Regions from separate parts of the Homo sapiens genome. Here regions 2, 3 and 4 are each reported to be linked to region 1. The links are microRNA targets in miRTarBase. Many come from high-throughput screens and were not tested one by one. Region 1 holds a microRNA gene; each other region holds the end of a gene's coding sequence.

Region 1 (8,041 bases):
AGGTGTTCGCTGTTATTCTTCTCAGCTGTGCTGCACTCACCTGATTCTCCTGAAGTCTGGCTTCCTGGAGCCAAAGTGACAAGGACACCCGCTTTGGCTCCTGGTGGCCATTGTATCCCTCGGTCACCTGGTGCCTTCTCGGGACAGCAAGACTCACTCAGAGAGTGGTGGGTGGCTGTGGATTTATCTTGCCCCGCCCCTACTCCCAACAATGACCAATACTAATAGCGTTTCTCATTCTTTTCAACACATGCTATTGAGCACTTGCCATGAGCCAGGCACTGGGGAAAGAGTGGGAACCAAGACAGACCTAGGCCCTGACTTCATGGAGCTAGCAGCCTGGCCAGGAGGCAGACATCCAACAGATAATGACACAGAATAAAGCCACAAATAAATAGGGTGTGGTGAGCACCGGAAAAGGAGGGCACAGGGAAGGGTGCAAGCAGGTTGGGTCATGAGTCTAGAGGGTGGGAGTTCCCCGAAAAGTGCAGTTGAGATGAGACCTGGAGAGTAGAAGCGCAGATGCCAGGGGTGGGGCTGTGCTCTTTCTGGGACAAGGAGCCGGCTGAGTTTGAGGCACTGTTATCAGGGCAGTGTGAGGAGTGTGGAAAGGGAGAGATGCCGCCGAGAGGCGGGACTGGGCGCATAGGGAGAGCAGACCCCGCTGGGTCTGTCGATTGTGGATGGGAGTGTGGATTTTGTGGCCGGGCCATTGGGAGCCATTGAAGAATGTTGAGGAGGAGGGTGGGGCTATGGAGTTTTCCATCTTGGAACGTGGCTCTGGAGGCCGAGTGGAGGATGCATATCCGTGGGGAGAGGGAGAAGAGAAATCGGTGCTTTCTGGGCAGGAGAAGGTGGTGGCTTATTGCTGGTGAGGGATGGCGGGCTTCCAGCCACTCCCTGCGCTGGCCCCGCGGATACCAAGAGCAGCAGTCCCTCAGTTCTTGCCCTCCAGCTGCTCCCACTCTGTTCCTAACTCTGCACCTCCAAACGTGTGGGTGGAGTTTTACAGTGAACCCCCTTGCAGCTGGATATGGCCAGCCAGAAACAGGGAGGCTTGCTTTGGTCACCAGAGGTGCTGAGCTCCTGCACCAGCTCCATTTGCCTGTCGCCAGAGGGGCGATGTTTCCAAAACCGTCTGAGATGCGGACGTCATGCCTGCTACTGTAACCAATGCATATCTCTTCTTTTTCTTTTTTTGCTGCAGCCAACTGGGTACATGGAAAACTCAGTCTCCTACAGCGCAATTGAAGACGTTCAGCTGCTGTCCTGGGAGAATGCCCCGAAGTACTGTTTACAGCTCACGATTCCTGGGGGAACTGTCTTACTGCAGGTAGGAGAAATAAACATGAACAAGCAGTTTCTTCTCCCTCATCTTCATGCACTTGTGCCCCTCGTTTCCCTTGGAGGGAGCCAGCAGCTATCAAGAGGAAAGGTTGTTTAACTTTGGGTGATTTTATTCCCCAAGTATAAGAAAGCTGTAAACCAGGTCTGACTGGAGAAAACGAAAAGGACTGTGCATGGCCTGAGCGTCTCCTGCACACCTGCTGCAGTCTAGGAACTTTTCAGGTTGCTCATTTAGTTTCCCTTAATAAACCTGATAAATAAGTTTTATGATCCCCATTTTACAGATGAGGAAACTGAGGCACACAGGTGAGTTGTTAGGCCCAAGAAGGCCGTGAAAAGCAGATGAGCAATAGATACTGACTTTTTGCATTACTTTGAGTGAGGGAGTTTCTGATATCTTGTTGATCTAAGTCTTTTGAGGCTGATAGAAGTATAAGCTATCTTTTTGGGAAAAAAAGTGCATTCTGTATGTACTGGTCAGGACGTTTGGTTGGAAATGGCACAAACATTATTCCAACTAGTGAGACAAAAAGAGAGTTTAATGCTGTTAACTATTAAATTAACTATTAAAGTAACTGGGAAGCCTTAGAGGGGACTTCAGGCATTGCTGGATCCGGGGGTCAGATGACATCATTAATATTGGGCATCTCTCTCTCCATCTCCTGGCTGTGCTTCTGTGTGCTGGCTTCATTGGCAGAATCTCACCATGTGGTAGGAAAGATGACCCACCTGCAGCCCAAAGCCACATCCTTAGAGGCTGTAATCCTTAAGAGTGAGCGCCCTTTTTCTTTCCAGTACCTTTTACAAAATCTCATGGAAGATCCTGATTGGCTCTGCCGTGTTCCCATTCAGCCCCCAGGAATTCACTCCCCCGGATTACCCGCCCACCCTTGACCTCAGGCAAGGCCCAGGTCTCGGATTGGTAGCCCCACCAGGACCACACAGAGGCGGTGAGGTGCGTCCACCAAGAATGGAGAAGTGACTGACAAAAACCACGACCACGGTCACACATACATAAGACATGTTACATCATGTCAGGGGAGCCAGCCAATTTTCAGAAGGAACCCCGAGTCTGAAACCCCTCATCTAGAGAAAATTTACTCTCTTATCAGTGGGAAGAAGACCTGCCTTGCTTTTTCTTTTGGGATCATTTTATTCCTAACTTGTTTTTCCAGGGAAACCTTCTCTTAGCCCAAAGAGATGCTTTCTAAAAACCTATTTTAGATCTAGCAGCCACTGGATTGTGTAACAGCATTGGGCTGAGAGTCACCCAGTCTGGGCTCCAAGGAATGCTGAGCTCAGTAGCGGAGCGTAACAACTTAGCATTGTTAGAAATGTCCTGTTTCTTACTGTCATCTCTCAGAGGACTCTGGAAACCACGCCTGCCCCAGTCTGCTTTCTTCTTAGTGAATCTCTCACACTCTGCCCTCTACGCTTTTCTTTTAACCCTGTCCCCACACCCCCACACTGTCCCTCCCCCCCTCCCCACCACAGCCAGCAAAGCCTTCCTCTTCTTTCTTTCTCTCCTCTCATCTTTATGATAGAGGTCAGTGTCACCCTCCTGCCAGACACTTCTGCCAGCTCCTCTGCCTCTTCACTCGCTCCTTCTTGCCCATCCGATGGCTGCAGCACAGAGTCCATGAAGGGGGTGGTCAGTGCCAGCCCCCCTCGGCGGGGGAGATGGGGCGGGCAATCACAGGGTTCAGTGGCCAACGGAGAGGTAGGGTAGCCAGAGATTGTCCTACCCCAATGACTTTGCTGTAGTCACAGAGCTTTGAGGCAGCCTCTCCCCTGTGCTCGGGGAGGCCCCATGCGTGAAGAGCCCCTCAGCCCCTGGGGAGACAGAGCCATAAACAAATGATTACGGAAATAATGGCTAAATTAGAGGCAACCGTGGAGGACTGGGAGCCCAGAGAAGGAGGAACTTATTTGGCCTGGGGGGCCAAAGCAGGCTCCCCAGACAGGGGGCATTTGAACTGGGTGTAGAGGGATGAGTAGAAGTGTGCCAGAATGGTGGGGTGGGGGCACACTCCCCGGGCAGAGGGGATGTGTGTGCAAAGCCTGAATATGGGGGACCTGGGTACTTGCTGCAGCTGGAGGAGATGGAGAGATGGAGTTTGGGGCTGTGGATATGTCTAGATCTGTTGGGCGATGGCCAGATCACCCAGGCCTTGCCAGCCAAGTGAAGAAGCCTCAGACCCTCTTCCAAAGGCAATAGGCAGCCACTGAAAGCTCTGAAGGGGTAGAGGGACACTAGAGGAATCAGTGTGGTGGCAGGGCAGAGGGGCCTAGATCTGTGCATGACAGAGAGGCAGGAGGGAGCCCCTTGAAACATTCCAGTTGGAGGAGAGGAGGCCCTGAGCCTCCACTTTCCTGCTCCACCAGCAAAGGGGCCTCATTCCTTCTGGGGCTGGAGGGGCAGCCCTGGCCTCCAAAGGAGGCCAGAGCATCACTCGCCACAGGGATGGAGGGGCAGTGAGGCTGAAAAGCAGAGAAGCAGTGCCTGGAATGTCCCTTTAACCCGGCTGTGGCCGCGGGCCCAGCTGTGATGACTCGCCTGGCCGCCGTGTCTGGCAGGGCTTCAGGACAGAGCTGCCGCCGTGGTGCTGAGGAGCCGAGCGGGCGGGGAGCCTCTAGCTGCTCCAGCATCCCACTTGCTCACTGCCCCCTGATCCCGTGGACAGCGCAGTCAGAGGCAGGAGCAGGAGAGGAGGAAGCAGAGGAAAAGGAGGAGGAGGAGGCGGCTTGCAACTCCTCAGATCCAGAGCCGGACTCCGAGCTAATGAGGGAGCAGCAGACACGGCCTCCCAACCCTTCCCCCAAGGGGAACCCAGGTGGGTGCAGCCCCTGCCCCTGGCGGCTGTGGTTCTCTCCCTGGCTGCCATTTCCGTCAGGGGAGGTAGACCTGGATCGGCTTCTCCCTTGCTTCCCTCTCATCCTCACCCCCACACTCTGCCCACCGTGATGCATGGGTGGTATGTAGCTGGCTCATTCTATAAACAGGGCTAGCGAGTCTGTGTGGTTCTAGGGAGGCTGGGGCGGGGTGCACTTGGCCCCTGGTGTGGTACTCAGGGCTTTCTTCAGTCCTGGTTGTATTCACGTGCCTTTTGTGACGGGTGGCAGGACCCTCTGCTTTGAGAGGCTGTACTTTGTCTTGATTCACATACAACATACTGTATTAGATCCCAGAGCCGTGGTGTCACAGAGAACAACCCCTTTGGCCCTGGGGACAGATCTTCCCTGCTCCAGGGTGGGAGAGGGGACCAAGAAACAGCCAGGTGCCCATCTGAACGGCATTACCTTAGTGCTCCTAGTCAGCAGATGAGTGAAAGTGCCTTAAATGGTGCCGCCCGGCACAGCCACCAGCAGCCACGCATGGCAGCCCACAGATGGATTTAATTTACTCATCAAATTAATAACACAGTTCCTCAGTCCCGTTAGCTACACCTCCAGTGGCCAGGGGCCACACATGGCCAAAGGCTGCTGTGTTGGACAGCGCACATAAAGAACATTTCCATTGACACACGAAGTTCTGTGGAGCAGTGCTGACCTCGAGGCCTTTTCATTTTGACCTCATACTGCAGGCACCTGAGCCCCTCCTGGGGCGAATCACGTCAGATCACAGGGGGCTCTTCGATCTTGCAGTCTGGCTGTGCTGTAATGCAGTCTGCACCCTGCTGCATTACAGCACAGCCATTCTCTCTACAGACAAGGGGAATGGCGGGGCCCAAAGAGGGCTAGTGCCCCTTCCCTACCCCAGCCTGCCTGATCTCTCTCCATCTCTGTCTCTTTCAGGTTCTTTGCATCCATGTGTGTCTGTTTTCCTCTCTCTCATGCCTTTTCTCCATCTCTCTCCCCTCCTTCCCCTTCTGTCCCCTCCTGCCTCTCCTCTTTCTCTCTCTTTAGTCCTTGCTGTGGCTCACTCTGGGCTTCTCTTGCAGGTCCTTCCTCCAGGCCTCTCACCACCTCTGAGCCTGTCCCCCAGTCCTCTCTGTGTGTCTCTCCCCTCTTCTCTTCCTCCTCCTCCGCTCTCTCTGTCTTCTAAGGAGCTCTTTGTAAAACTCTTACTTTGTTAGAATTTGAATCAATGCCTCTTGCAGACCTCGGGGAGCTGACCTGATCCTTCAAGGAAGGCAGAGAGGACATTCAGGCCCATGCCCCTCATCCCCAGCTCAGAGACAGAGCAATCTACCAGCAGGTTGAGTTGGCAGACAGAGGCGCCCAGCCTTCCAGCGTGGGTCCAGTTGGTGTGTTTTGGATGCTTTGTGTTTTCAGCGTGAGCTCCCTCACTGCCATGTTATTAGAATCCCTCGTTGCAGAAAGGGCCTGTTTATCCCATTTCCTCCATTGATGCCCTTTCTGCTAGCATTTCATTGTGGGGAGGCCAAGCATGTAAGTACATAGACAGTGTCATGAAAACGTCCTGAAGGTGCTGTCACTGGCCCCTGGGATGGGGTAGCAGGCATTAAAGAGCAGCGCGGCGCAGATCATCTTCTGGGGGATTCTGCCTAAAAATTGAGTGGCTGCCCATCAGCAAAAATTAGACAGAGCCGCTGCTCCACAAACAAGGCTTCAGGCAAGATAAGAGCAGGGAGACCCTCCTCCCAAGAGTGTCTGCTTCTTTCGGGGATGGGTTCCGGGACTCGGCTCTTCTCACCAATGTTCTGGAAAGTCCTGCAGGAGGCGGGGCAACTGTTTACCCCAAACATTGGCAGCAGGGCAGGGACGGGGTGGGTTCCTTTCTTACTGGAAGGTAGCAAGCAGGACTTTTCCGGTCTGGAAAGCACCAGAAAGGTCTCACTCTCTAGCTTCCAGTAAGAAAGGAAGCTCCTTTTCCCTAAGAAACTGGGCCGGGGAAGGGGAGCTTGGAAAAGGTCGCTCACAGCGCACCCTGGGCTGTTTTTCTCACCTCTCAAGACAATGCAACAATGAGAAAGAACTTGGCAAGTTTGGGAGAGGAAATTGGGCAGCGTTTGCCTGGAACCAGGCCCTTTCAGCATTCCAAAGATTTAACACCAGAAGTCGGAAGCCTGGAACCAGCTGCCCGCAGGCTTCCGGGGGACTTGGGGTCTGGCTGGGGACCTCTCCCATGTCTGAATGGATTCTCCTCTGAGTGACCCTCAGGGTTGGGCTGGGGGACCTTTCCCAGGTCTGAATGGATTCTCCTCAGAGTGACCCTCGGGGTTCCAGCCATGCCTTATGTTCCCACTGGGCTGAGTTCTCTTGGCTCAGCCACCAGCAGGACAGTATGGGGACTCTGCACAGAAGCGTGACCCTTCCCCCAGCTGGAACGCAGCCTGGTCAGCTTTCCCTTTGCTTGGAAGCCCCTTAGAGATGCCTGTGCTGGGACTCAAGACATTGCCTAGCAGCGTATGTCCTCCTTCAAAAGTAGACAAGCCAAAGGAACGAGCAGTTTACAGTCCGGCCTTGTCCCAACCTTTTTGGCTCCATCAGCCTCCACCTGCTCTCCTAGAGGCAAGTTCTGGCGCTTCCCTTAGTTTCAAGGTGAGGTCTCCTGCGTGCCACATCCTTCCTCCTCCTGCTTCATCAGTAGGGCAGCTACCATGGAGAAATAATGCTCACGGATGTCCCAACCCAAGTCCTGGGAATCCAGAGGAGCTCAGATGCATTGCTTCATGTTCCAGGGCTGGATTGCAGGGAGGGAAGACTGTGGGGTCAGACAGACCTGAGTTCCTGCCCAACTTCCCTGGGCACTAGCTCTGGATCCTTAGACTCTAACTAGCCATGGAACCCTAGGTTTTACCACATTCTAGCTGTGGAACCCTAAACAGCAGGAAGAACCTCTCTGGGGCTCATTTAATTTATCTGTGAAACGCACTCTAATACTTGTCTCCTTGCATATTGTGAGGCTCGTAGATATTACATGTAAAATACTTAGCACTGTGCCTGGTACTTAGTAGGTGTTCAAGAAAACACTGCCATGATCATTTTTAGAGTCTTAGTCAAATACAGTTTGGGGAAGAGAGGGAATCAGAGCTGAAGAGTTCTTTTGAAGGTCTGTTGTGTGTGGACTTTCTTCGCTGAGCAGAATGGGTATATGAATGCCCCATTCATCCATCCATCTATCCGCCCACCCATCCATTTATCCATCAGACTGTCCATCTGTCTTATCTGTTTTTCCATCCATCCATGTCTCCATCTATCCAATTCATTCATTCATTCAACACTTCAACCAATCTTTCACTTAACAAACATTTCTCCGGGTTTCATGGACACAGTGGTGCCTAAGTCAGACGTGGTTCCTGACCTCCCAGAGCCCATAGCCTGCAGAAGAAGGACAACTAGACAGGCGATTCCAGGACAGTGTGATGCGTTAGGCGAGGCATTCTGGCCTGGTTTGGTTGGGGATGGGGAGGGGAAGGCACCATCAAGACAGTCATTCTGGAGAAGTGGCATTTCAGGAGGGACCTGAAGTGTAAGTAGGAGTCCAGCGGGCAGCGGAGAGAAGGGGGTGACAGCAGAATGTTCCTGGTGGGGGAGTACACGCTGCATGGAAGCCAGTCTGAGAGCAGGGCAGGCCAGGTGCTGCCACAGTCACCAGCGACCACGCATTCTAGGTGGCTGGAAGCGGCACGGCATTGTTTCTAACTTGTGCTGTGTGTCCACCATGGGCCAGTGGGGGAAGGGAGTGTGCCAAGCGGTGCACGGGTTCTCAGGGGCTCCCACGCGCGGG
Region 2 (8,041 bases), not on the chromosome of region 1:
TCCCTGTGCTGAGGCCTGGAAATTCTCCCCAGGCAAGTAAATGGGCAATCCAAGTTTGCCTCATTTGTTTTTTGTCTCTTGGGAATCCCATCTTCCCATTCTTTGCCTCTGTCTGCTATATTTTGTCTGATATTTTATTTATTCAGGCAGGTTAGATCTGATCCCTGTACTCCATCTTGGCCTGAAGGTTTTTGTGTGATAAAAACAGCATATTTTTATGTTAATTAGAGAATTTCAGAAGACAGGAAAAACTGAAATGTGGGAAAGGTGAGGACTATTGGAGTATGTCTTTCCGAGGTGTGAGAAGACAGCTTGGATCCAGTGGAGAGGTTAGCCTTAGGCAGAAGCAGACAGTTGATCTAAAGTTCAGAGGAAAGAAGGAAGCCGTATATAGACATATAGACACACTTTTTTTTCCTAAATATGTATTTGTTGTGAATAATGGTGTGATATAGATGGGGAGAGGTATATAGATAGAACATTTATATAGGTGTATAGAGAATAAAAAATGTTACTGGGATGTTATTAGGATTATGGATTCGCATGACTTTTTGGGTGATTTTTATTTCTAAACTTTTCCTATTATATTACCTTCATAAGAAAATATGTAAAGAAATATTTTAAGAATTTAGATAAACTAGATGGAGATTTTGTTTTGCTCAGCTGTTCTCAGCACCTTGTCACATTACTCATTTGCTTAAAACCTCTAATGGTCTCTCATTACAAAGAAAAAGTTATAGTTCTATCAATGGCTAACCAGGTCCTCCATGATCCAGCTTCTCCCTGCCACCCTCACCACATTTGTCTTTGGCCTCACCTAATTCCCCCCATGTTCATTCTGCTCTAGCCGTACGGGCCTCTTTGGTTTCTTGCACAAATGAGGCATTGCTCTTACATCAGCTTGCTTTGCAGTTGGTGTTTTCATGCCTGGAACACTCTCCAGTCTCATGGCTTGCTTCCTTATACTATCTTTTCTCCAATGTCACTTTCTCAGTGAAAACCTTCCCTGGCCAGCCTATCTAAATTGCACTATCTTTCCTTCTTGACATTTTGTATCCCTTTCCTATTTTCTCCCTAACCACTTCTCATCATATGACATACAATATGCTTTCTTAAAAAACTGTTTCTCATTTACTTTTGGTTTTCCACTGCCACGTGTAGTTTTTCACACACGCAAGCAACAGATGTAAATCCCATAACAGTGCCTGACCCAGAGTAGGCATTTAAATGTGTTGAATAAAAGCTTGCAAAATGTTTTCCTCAATTTTGAAAGACATCTCTTTGAAAACTCCATCTTAGGAGATGTGATTAATAGAGGTGCCAGGTGACATAGAGCGCTGCTACATTTCTGGCCATAGAAAAGAGCCCACAGGGTGAGGCTGCTCAGGTCTGTGTGTGCTCATTCACGTCTTGAGTCCACAGGCCTGAGAATGAAACAAAGAGCCAGAGAACCATGGAGTTGGGATGGAGGTCATTGGAAGGGCTCCAAGGGTTGTATACAGGGAATGCTTGAGGGGAATCCCCCAAGAACAATGGTAGGAGATGGGTACAGCTCTCAGCAGTGTAACCCTTAAAGTCCCAGGTTAATGAGTCTAGAGGAAGAATAAGAAGAGAACTGCCAAAGAGGCAATTGTGTAAAAAGCTGTTCATCCACATTCCCAACATCAATGTTGTTACTATTGGAATGTAAAGTGTATGTGTGTGGGGTGTGTGTTATAGGGAGAATGGAGTAACAAATGGCAAAAGTTGACACAGGCCAAATCATGGAAGGCCATGCTAATTTTATTAACTTATATAGTGCATAAAGTCTAGAATTTAAAATTACAAAGGTTTTCTACAAATCAATAAGAAAATACAAATAACCTATATTAATCAGAACAGAAACTCAATTCAATTATCTTAAACAAGAAAGGGACTTTATTGGCTCACAAAACTTTAAAGTCCGGAGGTAGGGCAGGCTTTAGGCACAGCTGGATCTAGGGCCTCCAGAAAAATGACATCAGAACTTAGTTCTCTTTCCATTTCTGCTAGCATCCGAGTTTCTCCTCAGACAGACTCTCTCCACATGGCACAAATTCAGGCTTACATGGTCCTTGGTTCCTGGGATCTCCATAAAGCCTTCTTTCCAGTAGTTCCAGCAGAAGTTCTGTTAAGGGCTTTCCTTAGCCTGGCTTAAGTTATATACCCATTCTTTTATCACTGTGGCTAGGAAGCTGTGGGACTCAGGAGGCCAGGCCTGGTCACATGCTCACCTAAGCCACAGGGAATAGGTTCCCCACAAATAAATAAAGGTTGTGTTACCAGAAGATGGGGAAGGAGATGCTGAACAAATAAAAACAATATATCCACACATAACCCAATAGAAAGCAGGTAAGGGATACAAACAATCCACAGTAAACTATAAATGGCCAATAAACATGAAAATAACCCCAATCTCACCATTTTTTTTTATAATCAGGGAAATGCAAAATAAGAAAAGGTTCTTTTTCGCCCAACAGATAAAAACTATCAAGTGTAGGTATGGTTATATGGGGAAATGAACATTCTCCATACACTTGGTGAAAATACAGTTATGAAGGCCTTTGGGAAGACTGAAGGTGGACAGAGAACAAACCCTTTGATCCAAAAATCCACCTTACTGGACTCCAGACTAAAGAAATATTCACACACATGCACAAAGACATCTGAATAGGATGTTTACTTTGGCAATGTAATAGCGAGAGGAAAAAAATTAAGGGAATAAATAATGGCATTTTCATAGTATTTAATCATATTCAACCATTAAAGAAATTTAAAGACCTGTTATCTTTTTTTGAGACCAAAATTTTAAAAAGCTACAGAATATGAGATCCTATTTATGTAAAAAGTGTTTTTATGTGTATGTATATTCGTACGGAAAGGTGACTAGAGGATGTATGTTAAACTGTGGTAAGTGGAATGTGATTGGTAGCATTGGAGAAAAGGGTCTCTCTATTCAAAGAACTGTGTTTTTTATACAATGAGAAGGTAGTCATTAGACTTTCATAATTAAAAAAAGGAAAATGGGCAAAAGCAATTCATAATAGGAAATGCAAATGGCCAAGAAACATGAAAAGATGTTCCTCCTCATTAATATTCAAAGAAAAGAAAGAAATTTTGCCTACCAGATTGGCAAAAATTTTTAAGGATTCAGGGTTGGCAGACTATAGGCAAACAGGCATTCTTACTAATGATGGAGTTGTAAATTGGTGAAATCTTTTTGGTAGTAGTTTTCAAAACTGCAAATGTGAAACCTGATCCAATAAATTTCTAGTTATTCATCCTACAGAAATACCCACACAAGTAGCAAAATACATGTACAGGAATGTTAATTACACTTCTATCTATAATGAACCTAATTATCAATCCATAGGGGATTAAATAAATTACAGAATATTCATGCAATGGAATAGTATATAGTTATGAAAAAAGAACATCTTCAATGTGGGGGGAGAGGAGGCAAGTCTCAGTGTAGTGCATGTGAAATGGGGTTATGTCCTACTTTATACGGTAGCTGAGGATTAAGAGTTAATCCATGATAAAGCACTTCAAATAGTGCCTGTCACAGCAACCACAGGTGTCAGCTGTTAACACATTATTGATTAAATAAGTATATGCCTAAATCTGGAAGAACAAACGAAATTATCATGACTTCTCGGTAACACTGTGAAAGGAAATATCCTTTTTCATTTTACATTTCTGCACTGTAAAAAATTCAAACCAGCAATGTTTAATAGCTTTCACATTTGTTAACCATAAACACAAATTTATCAAGGTTTAATAGCCACCACCCATGGCATGGTGAATATGTCCCTGGAGTCTACAGAACCAGATTTGAATTTTATCTCTAGGCCACATGCAAGTCACATGATCTCTGAATCTTGCTTTCCTAGTCCACAAATCTAAGTGAGATAGGTACGGTGTCTAAGCCAATGCCTAGCATGCAGATTATTTCAGTACATGTAACCCTCCCTTCAATTTACATGAATATGAGACATATTGCTAAAGATCAAGTACCAACTGGGTATGACTACAGAGAGCTTAACCTCCAAGAAAGCCAGAAGAAAAAACCAGCAAATGCTCAGTGGCTACTGGGCAGATATCAGCAATCTGCATGACCTAAAATGACTGCTCATTTGCTAACCAAACAGATACTCTGGCGATGCCACTGCTTGGCACTGCCATATCACCACTTCATCAGAAGCTAGGCACTCCCCCAAATTTCTATGATTATCTGTGTGGGTAATGAATGTGTGGATGGAATTTAAAAATCACTACATAGTATTTAAAATCAATTTGTCTAGTGGGGACTAAGCCTAACCAGAGATAGAAAGTACACATCTCATCATTTCCTCTTCTTGTGTGCCACCATCCAGTTTTTTTTGGTCCAGTCCCTTTTTCCCACAGAGCTTTGCCTTAGCCTCAGAATCCTTTCTGAACAATGCAGATATTAGAGCTGCCAAGACAAAAACAGTATTTGCCAACCCTCATACTACTTTTTCTACACTCACATTACCAAATATCTTTGGCATTTATGACAAATCTACCACAGGGAAGCTTCCTTGTATATAGGAACCGCATACGATCTTAAAAAGCATGACATAATAGCCATTGAGAGGTTGCTCCCTTCTTACCTACTCTGATACAAGAATTCTGTCATTCCAGCCGTCTTCCAAATATGCCACCTGAAAACCTACTTGGAAAGAAGCCAGTTATAAATAAATAAATCACATCATTTATCTTAGAGCAGAGGAGTTTACAGCTTTATTGGACACTGACTTGTTTCCCCTCAGCCACAAAGAGAAAAAGACCCAAACAAAAGTCCCTACATTTTCTTGTATAACTTAAAATACATTATATCATTACTACATATTTATACTTCAATAAATCTTAATCTATAAAGCACATTTTTTATAATTGTTATCAGAAAACCTATAAACAAGCTCCATTCTGCCTCACTTTTCCACCAGCTGGCCTTGCATTTATTACTATGCTTTTTAATAGGCTCATGCAAAATCTCACCTTCCATTTTTAAACTTGATCCAAGCACCAGATATAACCAAAATCTCTGAACTAGGAAATATTTGTATTCACATGGGTCATTTTCCACACAATGATGCCCATTATAAAAAAGCCTCCTCTCATATTCTATATTTTAACTTCCAGAGTTTTCCACTAAACAGTAGAACCACAGTACTTGGAATTCTCAGCCAAGGAGTATATAATCCTACTACTACAATGTATTACTTTAATACATTTTAAAAAATGTGTTAAGACTGAAAATTAAAAAAAAATTCAATTGTGATAGGTTAATAAACTAGTTAATTGTCTAGTTGTTTATTTTTTAAATAGAACAGTCCATTCAACTTAATATGTAGGTACAACCTCAATGCTATTAGAGATTGATTAGTTCTTTAAAAAGATTCACAAACTTCCAAATTGTGGTAAGAGTATCGTGGACTCACCTCTGAACACTGGAGAGCCAGCTAGCTCTTTTGAGCCGAGTCCTCCTCCCCCTCCAAATACAACACCCTGGTAAAAAAAACTACAGTTCTGGGAACCTCACAGGTGACCTCCCCTGAGGAATGCTCAGACAAGGGGAAGAGGCTAACTCACATAAAACAGCAAACCCCTATGATTTACAGTGGAAGAAATACCTACCTACTTATGGTAGGATTACAGTACCTAGCACAGTGCCTTGTCGGTAGAAAATGTTTAATAATAAATGCATGGCTGCTTTTTTAGCCTGACGTTCAACCCTTTTGTACCAAAGGAATAAAAAATAGGTAACCTGATACTTGCCCACCTGTCAGGGAATTTTCTGTCCTTAACAAAGATGAAGGCAAAATAATGATGAACTCTATCATCTTTTTCTAAAAGCCATGACAGACCATTACCCTTATGTTTACATTTGCCTTCAACACTGCCATCCGCTACAAATTTTTCCCTAGTGTTATAATTTCTACCTTCATTATTTTACAACTGTTTATTATTTAGACTGTATGCTTTTTAATAATATATGGGAAAACATTATTTTCATTAGTAAGATGACTCCAAATTATAGAGAGGATGAGTAGCTTTTGAATTTTCCTGCAGGCAAAATATAAATTCTTGATACATTTCAATTCTTAGATCAAAGTATTTGCATATCTTCCCCAATCAAGGTGTTCCATTCACTTTTTGATGTTTTATCACCATCACTTCTTATCTGAGATCTTATGGTTCATTTTGAGGCTCTTAGCCATCCTTTATCCTCTTATTTTCTCAAATGCATATTCAAATTAGGTAAAAGGAAATAAGGGTAAATTTTTAAAAGATGGTTTAAAATGGTTTTCAGACTTTGTAATTCCTGTTGCCTTTTAATATATAAGGGAATGTATCCATATAAAGAACATTTCAATGATCAATGCAGAAATAATGTATTTGTCTTAAAAAAGAAACTTTCAAGAAAGGGACAATGAATCAGGTAGTTCATTATTTGGAGAAGTAATACAGACTATAAACATCACATGGAAAATTTAGGCATTAAGACCTGAATTAAGTTTAAAATTTCAGTTTCTAGGCAGGTATGACACCATTTCTTTCAAGATAAATATCATAATGGTGAGTGAAGATTTTTACATTTCCCAGTGGATTTTCTGACAGTCAATAGGGAAAAAACTATTCTGCATCATTTCATATTTTAAATTTTGTCTTCATTTCTGAAGAAAAAGACCTGAGTGCTGATTCTTTTTTTTTTTTCAATTTCTTAAACTTTCACAACATTCAGAAGTTTTTCTGCATTGTGTCTTCTCTGATGTCTAAAAAGATTTGAGCTTTGACTATACGATTTCCCACACTGAACGCATTCATAAGGTTTCTCCCCAGTATGGATTCTCTGATGATTAATAAGCCCCGAATTCTGGCTAAAGGCTTTCCCACATTCAAGACATTTGTAAGGTTTTTCTCCAGTGTGGACTCTCTGGTGTTGCACAAGAATGGAACTTCGGCTGAATGCTTTCCCACACTCAACACATCCATAAGGTTTCTCCCCACTGTGAATTCTTTGATGAAGAATAAGGGCTGAGCCCTGACTGAAGTGTTTTCCACATTCATCACATATATGTTGTTTCTTTCGAGAGGGATTTCTCTTTCTTTCAAACCTGCCCTTGGGGAAACAGGTTTCTCCATATTTAAAAATTTGAGGAACACCCATATTGAGAGTGCCAGGAACTTCATGGGATTCTAATGCTGAAGGAAGCTCCTGCTTTGGAGCTAGTGCTCCATTTTCAGTCCTACCATCATCATCTGAAATAAACAGAAAATGTAAATATCATTCATTATCTATTAAGGGAAAAGAAACCTAAAAAAAATTTTTTTTTTAATGAACTAAAATAGCTAGCACACATCTATAAACCACTCTGACACTGGTGTTAAGGCCTATTCTCAAAAAAGAAAAAATGAAATTACTCTGAATAACAGTATAACATCATGATATAAGGGATATCTGAATAAAACATAGGCAAGTGGTTTACAAATGGTAGTCAGAAAACAAAGGTCAGAAAGATGGTAGATTCTAAGATGGTTAGGGAGATAGTCAAAATGATGTGGCTAGGTATGGATGAAACTTTGTAAGAATAAAAATAAAATAAAATTGGCCACTAGGAAATCATTATAATGTTCTTTTACTTTGAGAAAGGGAGAAATTACATCAAAATACAAAGATGTAAATTAGAAAAACATGTCAGAAAGTGGCTATTTCTGAAATGAACAAGCCAAGTCAGGTCACAGCCAATGTTAGCCTAAAAGCAGAACACAGGAGTCTTGACAAGAAGGGGCTGAAGATAAGCTGGGGGCCTCCTGTGTTAACCAAAGACATGACATAAAAATTCAGTATGCCCCTAATAAATGAAAGTTTTCCAATAAAAGCAGCTTCTCCCATGTGGTATTTGTCATGGTACTTAGAAAAATCGTTATTTCTAAGCCTCAGTGAAACGTGTCCAATGAAAGAAAAGCCTGAATTACCAACATGGGTTAGCATCAC
Region 3 (8,041 bases), not on the chromosome of region 1:
CCAAGTAGCTGGGATTACAGGCATGTGCCAGCACAGCCAGCTAATTTTTGTGTTTTTAGCAGAGATGAGGTTTCACCATGTTGGCCAGGCTGGTCTTGAACTTCTGACCTCAGGTCATCAATCCACCTCAGCCTCCCAAAGTGGTAGGATTACAGGTATGAGCCACTGCACCCAGCCGTATTTTTTTTTCTTTAAGCACTTTCAACATATCATCATCTTACTGCCTTCTAGCCTGCAAGTTTGCTTTAAGATGTTTAATGATAGGCTGGGCACGGTGGCTCACGCCTGTAATCTCAACACTTTGGGAGACCAAGGCAGGCAGATTGCCTGAGGTTGGGAGTTTGAGACCAGTCTGGCCAACGTGGTGAAACCCCGTCTCTACTAAAAATACAAAAAAATTAGACGAACGTGGTGGCGTGCGCCTGTAGTTCCAGCTACTTGGGAGGCTGATGCAGGGGAATTGCTTGCGGAGGTTGCAGTGAGCTGAGGTGGTGCCACTGCACTCCAGCCTGGGGCAACAGAGAGAGACTCCGTCTCAAAAAAAAAAAAAAAAGAATTGTGACAGGTGTGACAGGGAGACCTTTCCCAATTAGCCTGTTGTAAAGGGTGTGGGAACACCTCACTCCTGGGATTGTGTCTCTCCTAGCTTTATGCGTATATTATACTATTACTAATGTCTATACAACTGCTCTTAAATGTCTTATTTTCTCTAAGAGGCTCATCCCTGCTTTTTCTGAGAAGCTTTCAGTTTCTGTTCTATTTTTCTGCCCTTAATCTTTCTCAAAGTCACTCATAATCCTCCCGAGTCCTGCAGATTCCCCACTGCTCCAATGCATCACGTCACCCCCTTGTGTTTTCAGCTCTCACAATGTGACATGCAAAGTATGCCGATACTTCTTCCAGTGTCTGAGTTGGGTGAGGCTGATTCTGGTCCCTCCACCAGACGGTAAACATGCCAGAATCATGGGTTCATGTTCTACTCTTTCTTCTTTTCTAGGGAGGAGCTGTGTATTGGGAAGCAATGCAGAAAACAAGCCTATTAAAAATCAACTTGGATTAACCCTTGAGGCACATCTGTCTGAATTGCAGCTGTTTCAAGCCGGAAGGAAAATTTACAGAAGTAATCAAGTTGAAAAGTTTACAAACCATCGTTCCTCAGTTTCACCACTTCAAAAAATTTCTTCTAGTTTCACAACACACATTTTTAATAAATATAGAAATGATCTTATTGATTTCCCATTACTCCCACAAGAAGAGAAAGCATACATTAGAGGAAAATCTTATGAATATGAATGTAGTGAAGATGGTGAAGTTTTTAGAGTCCGTGCAAGCCTTACTAACCATCAAGTAATCCATACTGCAGAGAAACCTTACAAATGTACTGAATGTGGCAAGGTCTTCAGTCGCAATTCACACCTTGTAGAACATTGGAGAATTCATACTGGACAGAAGCCTTACAAATGTAGTGAATGTGACAAGGTGTTTAATCGCAATTCAAACCTTGCACGACATCAAAGAATTCATACTGGAGAGAAGCCTCACAAATGTAACGAATGTGGCAAAGCTTTTAGAGAGTGTTCGGGACTTACTACCCATCTTGTAATCCATACTGGAGAGAAACCTTACAAATGTAATGAGTGTGGCAAGAACTTCAGGCACAAATTTTCTCTAACCAATCATCAGAGAAGTCACACGGCGGAAAAACCTTACAAATGTAATGAATGTGGCAAGGTCTTTAGTCTGCTTTCATACCTTGCACGGCATCAAATAATTCATAGTACAGAGAAGCCCTACAAATGTAACGAATGTGGAAGAGCATTTCACAAGCGTCCGGGCCTTATGGCCCATCTTCTAATCCATACTGGAGAGAAACCTTACAAATGTAATGAATGTGACAAAGTCTTTGGGCGCAAATTATACCTAACCAACCATCAGAGAATTCATACTGGAGAGAGACCTTACAAGTGTAATGCATGTGGCAAGGTCTTCAATCAAAATCCACACCTTTCACGACATCGGAAAATTCATGCTGGAGAGAATTCACTGCGTACCTTACAGATGGAATGAATGTGGCAAAATCTTTAGTTAGAATTCACACCTAGCACAACATTGGAGGACTCAGGAGAAAAACCTTACAAATATCATAAATGTGGCAAAGAATTTAGTTTGCATTGAAGCCTCATCACTCATCTCTTGATCCACACTGAAAGGAAACCCTACAAATGTAAAGTTAATAACATATATAAATAATCTATAAAGAGAGAACAGTTATATCAGAATAGAGCATTTAATGAAAACTACCAGTATAGCATATTCTTGAGTAGGATTCACATTTAACTGCTGGCACCGTAATTTGTAACTCTTTGATTTAGAATGTACATACTTCTCATGTTTTAAGTAATAAAGTTTAAAGTTTTTTTTTAGTTTTTTCTTTTTTTTTTGAGACGAAGTCTCGCTGTATTACCCAGGCTGGAGTGCAGTGGCATGATCTTGGCTCACTGCAACCTCCGTCTCCCGGATTCAAGCAATTCTCCTGCCTCAGCCTCCTGAGTAGCTGGGATTACAGGCATGTGCCACTACTGCCCGGCTAATTTTTGTATTTTTAGTCGAGACGGGGTTTCCCTCCGTTGGCCAGGCCGGTTTCAAACTCCTGACCTCAAGTGATCCACTGGCCTTGGCCTCCCAAAGTGCTGGGATTATAGGTGTGAGCCACAGCGCCCGGCCTAGTTTAAATTTTTCTTAGTGTGAATGAATTACATCCTTTCTACCAGCGTTGTTTAATCTTACCTCAGGAGGATACTTTATAGTAGAGAATAATAACCCATTATGATTTTAAGGTTGAAGCAGCCAGAAAAGTGTGTGTGTGTGTATGTGTGTGAGACATAAAACAACATACGCTTCTGGGTGCAATATACTTAAGTAAGTATGATGTTGAGTAATTACACTTAGTACTTGAGTTAGTTTCTCTGTACTCTGGTGTAGGATGTTTATGTGGGTAAAGTCAAAATCACTTTAATAGTACAATTTCAGCCTTGTACACCCTCAAATGTGTGTGAGTGTTAAAGAGTATGCCCTGTATTGTGTTTCTACATGCCTCTTTCTTGTGTGCCAAATAAGAACTATGGTGTGCACCTTCATTTTCATGCAGCAAAAATATATAGTAATATGACAAATATTAGGAAATAAAGTATGGGTTGAGGGCAAAAATACTGTAACATGGCCGGGCCTGGTGGCTCACGCCTGTAATCTCAGCACTTTGGGAGGCTGCATTGGGTGGATCACGAGGTCAGGAGATTGAGGCCATCCTGGTCAACATGGTGAAACCTTGTCTCTACTAAAAATACAAAAAAAAAAAATTAGCTGGGCCTGGTGGTGTGCACCTGTAATCCCAGCTACTTGGGAGGCTGAGGCAGGAGAATCGCTTGAACCCAAGAGGCAGAGGTTGCAGTGAGCTGAGATCACCCCACTGCACTCCAGCCTGGTGACAGAGCAAGGCTCCGTCTCAAAAAAAAAAAAATAATAATAATACTGTAACACAATTTCTTTTTGTACTTCTAGTGTTCAGTGACATCATTTGAAAATATTAATGTTCACCCATCTTCTTTTTAAGTCACACACAGAAAGGGAATTTTGTTTTGGTACATTAACTAGAAACTTCATATAGTCACCCTCACAACTCTTTTGGTAATTTGAATTTTTGACCACTCTTCTGGAACTTGTTTGAAGTCCCCCTAAGGTTTGGCTTGGATCTTGAGAATGATGATCCCATACACTGATATGGTTTGAGAGTGTTTATTATATAATGAGGCTCTGTGGGGGAAAGCAGGGTATACTTTTCCAGCTGGTCCAAAAGTGGCTTCAGAGAACTGGGATAGGTGACTGGCTTGGGGTGTCATGATTGCTAAAGGGTAGGGCTGGGGCGGGGATACCCACTACCCATACTGGAAACTTAGTTACAATTCACACCTAGCATGTATATTTTTATATTTTTTGTATGTATATATATTTTTACATTTTTTTCCTACATTGCCTCCAAATTCTATGTTTAATACATTTCTTCCCTGTTTTGCTCTGGTGAAAACTTTAGGGGACAAATAAATGAGTGCTGTTTGGAGACAAAATTTTGTGACATGGGACTGGGCATTGTGGCGTGTGCCTGTAGTCCCAGCTACTTGGGAGGCTGAGATGGGAGGATCACTTGATGCCAGGAGGTCGAGGCTGCAGTCAGTGAGCTGTCTGCACTTCAGCCTGAAAGACAGAGGGAGACCATCTCAAAAAAAAAAAAAAAAAAAAAAAAAAAGTTGTGACCTGAGTATGTCCATAAGACAATGGCAGGTATACACTAGGATTAATATAAATATGAAAAAAAAAAAAAAACTTGGCCGGGTGCGGTGGCTCACGCCTGTAATCCCAACATTTTGGGAGGCCAAGGCAGGCGGATCACGAGGTCAGGAGTTCAAGACCAGCCTGGCCAACATGGAGAAACCCTGTCTCTATTAAAAGTACAAAAAAGTAGCCCGGTGTGGTGGTGGGCGCCTGTAATCCCAGCTACTCGGGAGACTGAGGCAGGAGAATCGCTTGAACCCAGGCGGCGGAGGTTGCAGTGAGCCGAGATCGCGCCACTTCACTCCAGCCTGGGCAAAAGAACGAAACTCTGTCTCCAAAAAAAAAAAAAAAAAAAAAAGGAAATTGCACATTCCGCCCTGGCAGGGTTTTGCATTTCATATTTTAATTTGCATCCCCTTCATAAACAATTCAAGGACTTTAAAATTCCGGAAACTAGTGTTTATTATTCATTTATATTTATTTATTTTAATTATTTATTTCCAATTTGTTATTTATGATTATGTATTTATTAGGCGCAAGGTTTCTCTCTCATGCCCAGGCGGGAGTGCAGCGCACGACCTCGGCTCACTGCAGCCTCCACCTCATGGGCTCAAGCGATCCTCCCACCTCAGCATCCGGGTAGCTAGGACCACATGCGAGCGCCCCTACAGCCGATTTAAAATTAATTTTAATAGCAGGAATTTTCCTGGATCTAATCATCAACAAACTTTCCCTCTGCCGGGACACAATCTATTTCCAGATAGCTGAGTTCTTCCAGTCTCCACGGCAGGTCTAGCCTCCAAAACGAGACGAGCTGGGAGCGAGGCGGAGGGAAGCGCAGGCTCCGCCCAATCCCACCCGGGCCTGGCCTCGCCTCGCCTCTCAGCTGCGCGCGCAGTTTCCTGGAGACCCGGAAGCAGATTACGTGGAGTGACGGTCATGCTGCGGCGTGTGAGTTTCCCTTTGTTTAGATTAAATCTGGGATGCTGAGTCCCCTCGCGCTTCTGTACCCGGCATCTCAGGGGTCACACAGACCTTGAAATCCCCGCATCGCTCCCTCCACCCCGACTAAACTCAGACGTTCTAATGAGAGTCTGGCGGTCGCTTCCCTGAGTGTTAAAATCGCTCGGAGGCTGGTCCTGTCCCCGGTCTTTCACCACAGGGCCATGTAGACAGCTCCTGTCGCGGAGTTTGCCTGCTTCAAATCCTTCAGTGACCCCTAGACACGGCCCGCGCTGCGTAAAGTTCTCACCCGCGAGATGGATCCACGTCTTTCCGGTCCCCCAAGCCTCGCCCTCTTTTCACAGGCCTGCCCCCTTTTCTGTGCCTTAAATGAGAGGAAATCGATCTGATGTTTACTGCTGATTGTGATGTTTCAGCCTCCATTGGGCTTTTGCTAACACCTAAATAAATATTTAGTGGACAAAATTAGGTTAGTGCAAAAGTAATGGCAAACCGCGATCACTTTTGCACCAACCTAATATTTATGGGCCGGGGCTGGAATTCCATCTTCTCCGGAGGCCCAGGCTGGAGAATTCCTTGAGCACAGGAGTTTGAGACCACTCTGGACAACATAGTGAGACCCCCATCTCAATTTTTGAAACATATGTTTCAGTACGGGTATTTAATAGAGATTGGAATTCTCGTTTCTATGTTTTTACATGGTCTGACTTTTTGAAATAGTTTGAAATAATGTTTATAAACTGAATTGAGCACAGTTTATACATTTTTATTGTTGCAAACATGCTGAAATGCACATTTGCAAAAACAACGACAGCCAGGCACAGTGGTGCACGCTTGTCATTCGAGTTACTCGGAGAGGGTGTCATTTGAGGCCAGGAATTCAAGGCTGTAGTGTGCCATGAATAAGCCACTGCACTGCAACCTGGACACATTAAAAAACGAACAAAGACAAATATCTAAAAAAGAGGTTATTGACAGACAACTCTTTCAGTTGTCACATATATGTTTACTAGAGTATATGTGTGTGAATGTATATATGTATATGAATAAGTGTGTACATGTGATGTGTGTGGATGAGTGCACAGATGAGCAAGTCTATTGTTTTTATCAAAGGCGCATCATCAGTTTATATACGTCTTATATCTTTTAACAGTTGAAATTACATCTTATATATTTTCATGACCTTAAAATTGTTCTACACTGTTATGATAGTGAGTCTATGGCTGTAAGGATAGTAACCTGTTATGGGGATACATGTGCGACAGTTTCTTGATTTTAATCCCGGAACTTATTTTAACTATACTCAGTTAGGTCATTGTCTGTCAATTTACTTTTGATGCTGATCTGTTATTGTTTGATGTTTTTTTTTTTCTTTTTCTGAGATGGAGTCTCTCTTTGTCACCCAGGCTGGAGTCTCGCTTTGTCACCCAGGCTGGAGTGCAGTGGCACCATCTCAGGTCACTGCAAACTCTGCCTCCCGGGTTCAAGTGATTGTCCTGCCTCGGCCTCCCAAGTAGCTGGGATTACAGGTGCCCACCAGTACGCCTGGCTAATTTTTTTATTTTCGGTAGAGATGGGGTTTCACCATGTTTGCTAGGCTGGTCTTCAACTCCTGACCTCAAATGATCCACCTGCCTTGGCCTCCCAAAGTGCTGGGATTGCAGGCATGAGCCACCACGCCTGGCCTAATTCTTAAAGTTTGATTCTAATGCCCAGACTCCTGGGATCTGGCGCTTACTCTGCCATTTTTAGCCTTCACACCTGGGGCAAGTTTCTTAGAATGTCTGAGAAAGAGTTGTCTCTTCAATAGGATGGGAACAGATTGTTCTTTTATGGGCTTTTGTTGTTATAGCCGTTAGTACATGTACAACATTTAGAAAGTGCCTGTCACATGGGAGGTGTTCAAAAGCTTCATCCTGGCTGGGTGAGGTAGCTTACGCCTGTAATCCCAGCACTTTGGGAGGCCGAGGCGGGAGGATTGCTGAGGTCAGGAGTTCAAGACCAGCCTGACCAACATAGTGAAAACCTGTCTCTACTAAAAATAGAAAAATTAGCTGGGCACAGTGGTGGGTGCCTGTAGTCCCAGCTACTCGGGAGGCTGAGGCAGAAGAATCACTTGAACCTGGGAGGCGGATGTTGCAGTGAGCCAAGATTGTGCCACTGCACTCCAGCCTGGGCAATAAAGTGAGACTCCATCTAAAAAAAAATTATATATATTGTATCTGACGCTTCTATAGAAATAACTGTGGGTTAATTTTTTGTATTTCTTATGTTGTCCACAAAATTAGAAATCTCTACTAATTTTTTTTTTTTTTGGAGACAGAGTCTCGCTCAGTTGCCCAGGCTGGAGTGCAGTGGCACCATCTCGGCTCACTGCAAGCTCCGCCTCCCAGGTTCACGCCATTCTCCTGCCTCAGCCTCACGAGTAACTGGGACTACAGGCGCCCGCCACTACGCCTGGCTAATTTTTTTGTATTTTTAGTAGAGACAGGGCTTCACCATGTTAGCCAGGATGGTCTCGATCTCGTGACCTCATGATCCACCCGCCTTGGCCTCCCAAAGTGCTGGGATTACAGGTGTGAGCCACCGCGCCCGGCCTAGAAATCTATACTAATTTAAAGAATATCAGGTTGGGCATGCAGTGGCTCATGCCTGTAATCCCAGCACTTTGGGAGGCCGAGGTGGGCGGATCACGAAGTCAGGAGATCGAGACCATCCTGTGTAACATGGTGAAACCGCATCTCTACTAACA
Region 4 (8,041 bases), not on the chromosome of region 1:
TTTACCAAATCAGGCCCACCACATTAAACAGAAAAACAATCTTTATTCATGGTAACTTATCAGTTTCAATTAATCAACCCTAACAATGGAAATTCTGATGTGTTCAAGCAACTTGAAAGCAATAGGTCATCTCCAGGGCAGCATTGTTGTGTCTTTGTGCCGAAGATTTCAAACAAAGCAACATCTTCAATAAATATACATGCATATACATATATACATGTGCATATATATACATACAAATGGACAGTTACAGCTGAGCCCTGTGGTGCCAACAAAAATGCATGTGTATTTTTTATTATTTTTATCACAGCACATGTAATTGTTTTCCCTCAAGTATTACTTTTTGAGCTCTGCAAGTTTAAACAAAAGGAAAGAAATTTCCATTGGATGACCATCCTTTCAGTTTCTGTACTGCTATGTGAATAGCATTGTGCAAACCATTCCATTGGTTTTGAAAAGGGGTAACCATTGGTTTGATTTGGTTACACGGTTTAGTAAAGAGCTCCCTCCCACTGCCTTAGGGTCTGTGAAAGGTCTGTGACCTGTTTAGAACTGCCAAGTGAAATGTCATGTTGCCCCTCCCAAATGGGAGTATCTGCATTCATTTGATCAGTATAAAAAATGATTGGGGATGGCGAGATCAGTGCTTTTGAATTGCAATTTATAGCAGTTTACAAAAATGCACATTGTTAGAAAAGAAAACATGGAAGTGTTTCTTTCTAAATTGCATTACCTGTGAAATGTCATTAGTCTTTTAAGGATATTTACATCCTTTTTTTATTATTTAGGAGACTTACTTCAACTAAAGAAAATAAGAATTTTATTACCTTATGATTTTTTGAGTTGTATTTTGGTTTTAGTGTTAAAATTTTTTAAAAAGCAATGTTTCTGAGTTATTCATATAAACATAATTTATCATGTCCATTTATTGATTTTCTAAGATAATCTTTGTTAATGGGTTGTATTAGTAGAAGATTCTTAATTATCTTTCCCAGATTGTTCAGGACATTTATTTGTTGGTAAATTCCTCGTCTGCTGATTTCTAATAGACTAAAATCTCCAGTATACTTAACTCTAGCAAGTTTCCACTATTCCTTCAACATTGTACTACCAGAACTTCTTTGTAAGATGAGTACTTTTCTAAATTATGGAACCCATTGACTCATCTACATGTATGCATAGTTTTATAAAAAGAAATTTCATTTCTTTTCATTAAATGTGCAAAAGAATACACGAAGCTTATCCAGAAAGTTTAGGTAGCCTGTTCAAGTTCATAAGGGCTGAATGCAGCCTCCTGGAGTTTCTGGGATGCAGAAAACAATGCCCTTTATGCTATTTCCAGGCATCTCACAAGCTCTGTATCTTTATGGCAGTGTGTAGCATTGGACATTACTTTAAAGAAAGCTTTGAGTAAGAAAAGTTACCTTGGGAAAAGGCCCTTGGGGCTTTCCTGGTTGATACTTGACTAGAAAAAGAAAGGCCCTTCTGCAGAAAAGACTTGACCCAGATAGGCTCTGGAGCACTCCACTTTGAACCTCCCAACCATTGAAAGCCGAGGTTGTCACGTTTTTATCTTTGTTCATGTTAAGCCTTGGAATGACAGCCTGGCTCCTCTGTGTTCCCCTCTCCCACTGCCCCGGCTATAAGTGTCCACATTGACACCTACCGGTGACCGCAGGCTGCAATGCTTTGTTGCCTTCTCCACGCTCCCGGCTTTCACTGGGATTAGCCCAGGGCCTTTGTTCCCCTTCAAAGCTGGAACATCACATCCCATGTTGTGGCTTTCCTGTCTCAGACCCCCAACGCTTTCCTCACAATTTACGCACCAGGTAAATGTTCCTCCCCACAGGGCAGAGAGCCCAACGTTGAGGTTAGGGGGTGGGGACATCTTCCCATTCCCCAGTTTCAGAGCCCAGGGCCAATGTGGTTTCCTTTCCTTCTCATTCATAATTTTCTATTTCACAGGCCCCGTCTATTTCCATTGCAAGGCAAATGGAAATTTAAAACTTGGAAAAATCAAATCCCTGGGCCCAAACACAGACAACTCTTCCCACTTTTTTTATTCTGCTACAACGGCTTCAAGTAGAATGTTGAGTACTGGCCTTTATCAGGGGCACCTGAGACCATTCCTGCAGCCTGGGGCTGCCGGAGAGCCCCAGACTGTCTCAGAGCAAAGCTTGGCTGGCACACGCTGTCTGGAAGGCCAAGGATAATCTGCCTGCCTGCCCTACCTCCTTCACCGTCTCTCTTCCAGGTTCCTGAAGAGGCTCTCAGCTAGGGCCAGGGCTGGGAAGACCCACTAAAAAAAATGACGCAAAATGCTTTGGGGGAAGAGTGGGAAGTGGTCTGTGTATGATAAGTAAAACAAAGTTTATGTCTGTCCACCTTTCTTCACGTTTAGGGAAGTTGTCGGAATCCCCAAAAGAAGAGTCCTTGGAGGAGCCCTCCATGCGCCAGAGCAGCCCCGCAGAGACTGTTGATTAACCCAGCAGAAGCCTGGGCTGCGCAGACGGGGCCTCAGAAAGAGTGGCCTCGCCGTCCTGGTGTAAGGTGCCTCCCTCGGAAAGGATACTATCTCCAAGGATTTTCTAAACTAATTGTTTAATCTCTCCAGATTATGTATATTAACCAGCACTGCGCTCGAATAGACCTCAATGCGCGCCTTGTGCGCGCTCCTTTCCACGCCTTTAAGGAAAGCCCTGGCTGGTGCTGGGTGAGCGGGGCGCACTGAACCTCCGGGGCAACCACATCCATTCAGGAGCTCCGGGGACTCAGAAGAGCCCAGGCGTCTAAGAGTGGGAAGGGACGGACTTTAATTAAAAAGTTTGACTCCCTCTCTAATCCAGTCTTTCTATACCAAAAGCATCAACCTGTTTTGCTGTCTCCTCACCCAATAACTAGTCCCCATGAAGGTAGGTCATGAAGACTACAGGGAGATCGTACATTTCCTCAAGCAAGATTCATTCTTATCTTACCCCGGCACAGGGCACCTAGCCGCATCTTAAAGGCTGTCAGAAATTCTTTAGTAAGTAGGGAAACTCTTTGGAGTTTTGCTTCCTGGTAAGGATGCAAACCAAGATTCTGCTGGAATGCCAGACACCGTTTACCAAAAGGCGGGTTTGCTTTTCTTCCATGCGTAATGTCCAACTTGGTTCTTTCTATTCCCCTAACTACAAGTAAGGCCTTGTTAAGAGCCTGTATCTGAATCGTAGGCTCTGGATTACAGAATTCTACAGTTATTTATTAAGTCTCAGGAAATATATTTGTGGTAGTTGTCACATAAAGCTGATATACTTTAGTTCAAAAGAAAGCTGCAGAGGTGATTTATTTGTGCGTAAAAGGAACAAGATTTAATTGGAGAGAGACGTGTTCTTTTCAACGCAAGTACATGGGATGGTATAGCGCTGTGGAGCGTTATTCGAGCTTCATCTACTATGCACTATATGCCGCTGTCTCCAAAGGAGTGTTGCCCTAGAAACTTGTTTTAAATCTGCTGCTATATATCAACACCTTGTTTTAGCAGTCCTTGGCTGAATTACAGTTACACAGTTTGGCGCTTCTTTCAAATTTCCTCCCATCAGTTTGGCTAAAGAAAGGAATTTTTCTCCTTTAGAAATGAATTGGCTTAATTAGTAAGTAGATTAATGGCAATTGCTGGTGAGTTGGTTTCCAGCAGAGTTTCACCAGAGAGGGTTAATCGGAGTCAGGTCTGGAATCTTTCCCAGAACTGGCTGCCAGCCATTTCCACCAACCAATCAACCCTACAAGAAACAGAGGAAATGAAATAAAATTTGTATTCTCTGTGCCATCGTCCTGGACAGAAATTCCTTGGAAGCAGCCTCCTGGTTGGGTGTGATATCAAACTGCTTCATTTCAGAACTTTAATAGAAACTTGAACCTTCAAGATTTATCTGGGTACCAAAGCAAAGTTTCAAATGGCACAATAAAGGTCTCCACAGAACCCTGGATGTATTGGAAATTTCTGAGGCTCTCAGCCAATTTCAGGTTGGGAGAAATTGCAAACCACCCAGGTCCTGCCCTATATCTGTTGTCCATCAGAAGTCCTTCAAAAGTTTTGCTGTATGTTTTGCAGCCTTTTTACTTTTTTACTTATTTTTTTCCCATAGTGATGAAAATGCATTCATAGTTTAACTTGCAGCTGCATTAGTCTTACAAAAAAAAAAAAAAAATCCCTGCTGAGAAATGCATATAATAGGAAAAACAGATCGGCTGGACAGCAGTGTAATTAATGCCAGAAAGGGCTGAGGCCGGTTTCATAGTTTGTCTTTTGAGGATATCAAGACGAGACCTGGTGAAAAATGACGCATGCTTTAGCATTTCAGAAAGCTGGCAACTGGCAGCGCTTTTCCTTTTTTCTTTGACTTTCTGCCGCGGAACAAAGAGGTCCGCAGAACTAGCTAGGTTGTAATGAGTTCTATGTCCCTAGCACATTAAGTGCATCATGGAAACATATTGTATCGAAATAGTTTGGAGGAGAATACCGGGGATGAAAGAGAATGGGTGCTTTGATCAGCTCCCTGGGGTCCTGAGCACGCACAGACTGACTTGCAAGGAGTTATTCAGCTCCAGCTAGACACACTTACAACACCATTGAAAGAAATTTGCATATCTGTAATTTATCACATTGGTCCAGAACATTATTGCAAGGTAAATAAAAGTTAGTTGAATAAAAAAAATCAATCATCGCAGATATAGAGAAAACTGTGAAGCCAGTCTTTCCACTAAAAAATAGAAATAAATATGTCTATAAAACATAGTGACTTAGAAGTAGCTGACTTTATTTTAAAATGCCTTTAGAACAACAGGTTATGCACTGGCAAAAACAAGAGTGGCCACAATTTCTTTGCCTTTCTGGTTTAGGGGAGTGTGTTCACTGCTTCCCACTGGAATAAAGTCAAAGTTGAGATGTGTTTGGCCATAACCAGCCTGCAACATGCAGACAAAAATTAGTACACACTTTGAGCAGATATGAAAGACGACTTAATCTCTCTGGCATTTGCAAATGCTAAGTTAAATCTCATTTCTTCTTCTGTTGATTTCATTCCTAAGCCTTGTTTGCTGAATTTAGCTCAAGAGGATGAAATGTCCAGAGACCTGGTCAATAGGAAAACTTGCTTTCGAATGCCCCATGAGAACAAGTGAAAATTTAACAGGCAGGCATTGTTCTGAGTTTTGAAACAACCCAGTTAAACAGCAAACAAGAATCTTCAACTTGACCTTGAAAAAGGCTGTGTGCCTGCAGATAATCTATCAAACAACTCTAGATGACAATGATATATTTCAAAGTATTGTCAGATGAAAAGATTGATAAATTTGCTGTTGCAAAGAGAGAACTTTGGAAACAGGCAACAGGCACTTTAGCTCTCTGACTCCGCCTCCTCCTCTGTCCTCACTGCCCCGTCCCCACCCCACCACCCCCAGCCGCCCTTGGGGCCAACTCGGTAGAAGAAGGCCAGTAAATCAGCACTGTAATATTTCTTAAGGGGCACGGAAAAGCTGTGAACAGTACTTCTCATATTAAACGCAATATTTCTTTGCTTTCGTGGGGAACAAAAGTCATAGCAAGACGTCTTTATGGCTAATTCAGTCAAAGGCACATCCCTGGTTCCCCCCGAAGAAAGGTCAGTGTCGTTGTGTTTGGTCCACCGAGGGGGTGTTTTCACACTGAAAACTGAGCCAGCTGTCCCTGTCATACCCTCGCCATTGGGGAGCGCGCACTAGCCATGGTTATTAGGCACTTCTACACCTGCAAAATACACCGATTTCCAAGACTTTTCAAGACACCCTCCCGTTCTCATGCCCCCTCCTCTTGTCTGCTAAACTTTGACAACACAATTCAAGCCCTGGATGAAAGCGCTGCACGCAAGAAGAACTCTTGGGAGGGGTGGCCCAGCTACCATCTCCCAGTGTCTATTGAGCGGCCATCAGAGAAATGAGGCGGCAAGTGTATTTTCAAAAGTACGGAAAAACTTCCAGATAATCGCTTCGAGGTGTCACATTTGCTATTGCCACATATGCCAACTGTTGAACCCTAATATTTTATTATATGCACCGGTGTGAGTTGTGGGGTTGCAGCCAGGCGTCCTTCGCTTAGAAGTGGCTTGTTTTAAAATTTGTAATTAGCATGTCACTGACAAGCGCCAGGAGACACATTTTTTTTTGAGTTGCCCAATGCCAGTGCACGTCTATATTTTTAAAATCCGAATGCCAACGCTTGCCCAAATGGATTTTATAAAACTTCTAGAAACATCCCCTAGCTAGACTCATACCCTGAATCCAATTCCGAAGGCCTGCGCTCCAGAGATAGGCGACTAACTAGCTGTTTGGGAGACGTCCAGCGACTCCAACAGGAAAAGAGCTAGAAGGGATCCTGTGCAGTCACCGAAGAGAAATTGTAAAACTAGAAATAATTCAGAAAACGCATCTTTAAGAGCGAGAATGCCCCGAGGTGCCGGTACCTCTAAGACAGAAGGGCTAATGTAACTAGCTTTCTCCATCCGCACTTACATAGGGCCTAGGAGTGGGGGTAGGGAACCGAAGAGTCCTATCTGGCTGCGGGTTGCGGGGAGGGGACGAGGAGAGGAGAAGAGCCCATTTAATTAGCCGGCGGTGTGTCTCTAATCCTCATCTTTGTCTAATCCACCCAAACTGCCGAGCTCTACATGAGAAGTCCCTAGAGTGGGCGAGGTGCAGAGGTGCCCAGGACGCCTTGGGTTCCTGGGACACAGGCAGAGGTGAAACACCCCACATGCCACAGGAAGCGGGGAGGGGGTGCCTCTCACCACAACGGAACCCTAAACTATTTCCTGAAGGCTTGGGGCCTCCACACAACCCGCCTCCACCAGCAAAGCGCCGGCGCCTCTCCAAAGCGATGTCAGCGCAACAGGTTGTTTGGAACAGGTGCCGGCCAGCTAGGGATGGGATTGGCCTTAAGTTGCGGGGATCAGTCAAGGGCCAAGACTCCCCGAGAAGCAAGGGCAGACCCCCAGAGGTCCGAAAGTGGGGACTGGCTAGAAACCTGCGCCCCCCGCTGCTGTCGCTGCTAGCGCTGGCGCCTCGGCCCAGAGGCAAAAACCAGCTCGCCACAACCTGCGCCCCGGGCCACGGGGCCCTCTACAGGCGGCCGCCCGAGGGCTTCCCTCCCGGCCGCGGGGCGTAGTTGCCCCGGGCCTCCTCCGAAGAAGCCTGGGGTCCCATCCCCGGATCTCCTTTTGGCCGTTCGCTCCCCTCCCTGCTCGCTGCTTCCTGGAGCCCCTCTTGGAGACTTCCATGCGCAAAGATAGCAGAACTGCGGAGAGCAAGGCGTCGGGCAGCCACTTCCAGCCTCAAGCGAAGACAGGCAGCACAGGAGTCCCGAATGCCCCTGGGAGCAAGGGCTAGGCGGGCCTCCGGGGACACTCGTCCGACTCCACCCCGGCTCTCCGGAACCCTGGGAACGCGGAGCAGCGGGCGGGGCGCATGCGCGCCTCCGGCCAGGGTCCCTCCCCGGCCTGCGGAGTTTGGGGAAAGTTTGGCGAGGTTTGCCCTGGCAGCGGCGGATGTCCCAAAGGTCAGGCTGCCCTGGGGATGCAGCCAGGATCCCCCCCAGAGTCCCAGGAGCGGGCTCGGCAGGAGCCGGAGGGCTGAAAGGCGGCAGAAGGTGGGAAGAGGGAGGCCTTTTGTGTGTGGCACAGGAGAGTCACTTGCGCACAAACGCAGCAGCGCGCTCCGCCGCCGCCTCAGCCTCCACGGCAGCACCTCCGCCTTAGAGGCGCTTCATTACAGCCGAGCCCTTCCCCCGCCTCCCCCCGGCCCTGGCCTTTGTTCGGCTTGAAAGTAATGCTGTGAATTAAAAGAAATGACAATATTTTCTATCTGCTTAAAAGTCCAAGAGAAGAGCCCTTGAGCTTGGCAAAAATCAGGCAAATCATTCATCATGCCACCCCGCACCTGTGGTCTTGGCATTGAAAACCCTCCAGACCTATTCCTATTAAACTTAATTATTCCCCCAAAGCACACAATGGTTGAAATGGAGCAGGTT

Evidence for each region. Region 1 holds the annotated microRNA hsa-miR-6504-5p (UCUGGCUGUGCUGUAAUGCAG, at 4,993-5,013, shown strand). A microRNA usually pairs through its seed, bases 2 to 8, with sites in the 3' UTR of a target mRNA and lowers its output. Matches are read on the target gene's strand: a 7mer-m8 pairs with bases 2 to 8, a 7mer-A1 pairs with bases 2 to 7 and ends in A, and an 8mer does both.
Region 2: miRTarBase lists ZNF24 as a target of hsa-miR-6504-5p. The part of its 3' UTR that is shown has no 7-base or 8-base seed match.
Region 3: the mRNA of ZNF610 is a reported target of hsa-miR-6504-5p. Seed matches in the 3' UTR shown: 8mer at 2,845-2,852.
Region 4: miRTarBase lists C10orf67 as a target of hsa-miR-6504-5p. The part of its 3' UTR that is shown has no 7-base or 8-base seed match.

The regions. Positions count from the first base shown.
Region 1 is chr16:81,606,360-81,614,400 of GRCh38, forward strand. MIR6504 (microRNA 6504) reads left to right here and starts at 4,989; the gene lies at 4,989-5,049. It overlaps CMIP (c-Maf inducing protein), which reads left to right. Exons shown (of 21, transcript NM_198390.3): 2 at 1,208-1,333. RefSeq lists an enhancer at 2,203-2,432.
Region 2 is chr18:35,330,466-35,338,506 of GRCh38, forward strand. ZNF24 (zinc finger protein 24) reads right to left here. Exons shown (of 4, transcript NM_006965.4): 4 at 1,762-7,305. The coding sequence ends at 6,767. Among named protein-coding and RNA genes, the nearest start is that of ZNF24, 9.9 kb to the right of the region's middle.
Region 3 is chr19:52,364,701-52,372,741 of GRCh38, forward strand. ZNF610 (zinc finger protein 610) reads left to right here. Exons shown (of 6, transcript NM_001161425.2): 6 at 998-3,078. The coding sequence ends at 2,067. ZNF880 (zinc finger protein 880) reads left to right here and starts at 5,223. Exons shown (of 4, transcript NM_001145434.2): 1 at 5,223-5,277. The coding sequence starts at 5,266. RefSeq lists enhancers at 4,905-5,204, 5,215-5,324, 5,525-5,664.
Region 4 is chr10:23,198,616-23,206,656 of GRCh38, reverse strand. C10orf67 (chromosome 10 open reading frame 67) reads left to right here. Exons shown (of 16, transcript NM_001371909.1): 16 at 2,402-3,961. The coding sequence ends at 2,484. Among named protein-coding and RNA genes, the nearest start is that of PTF1A, 10 kb to the right of the region's middle.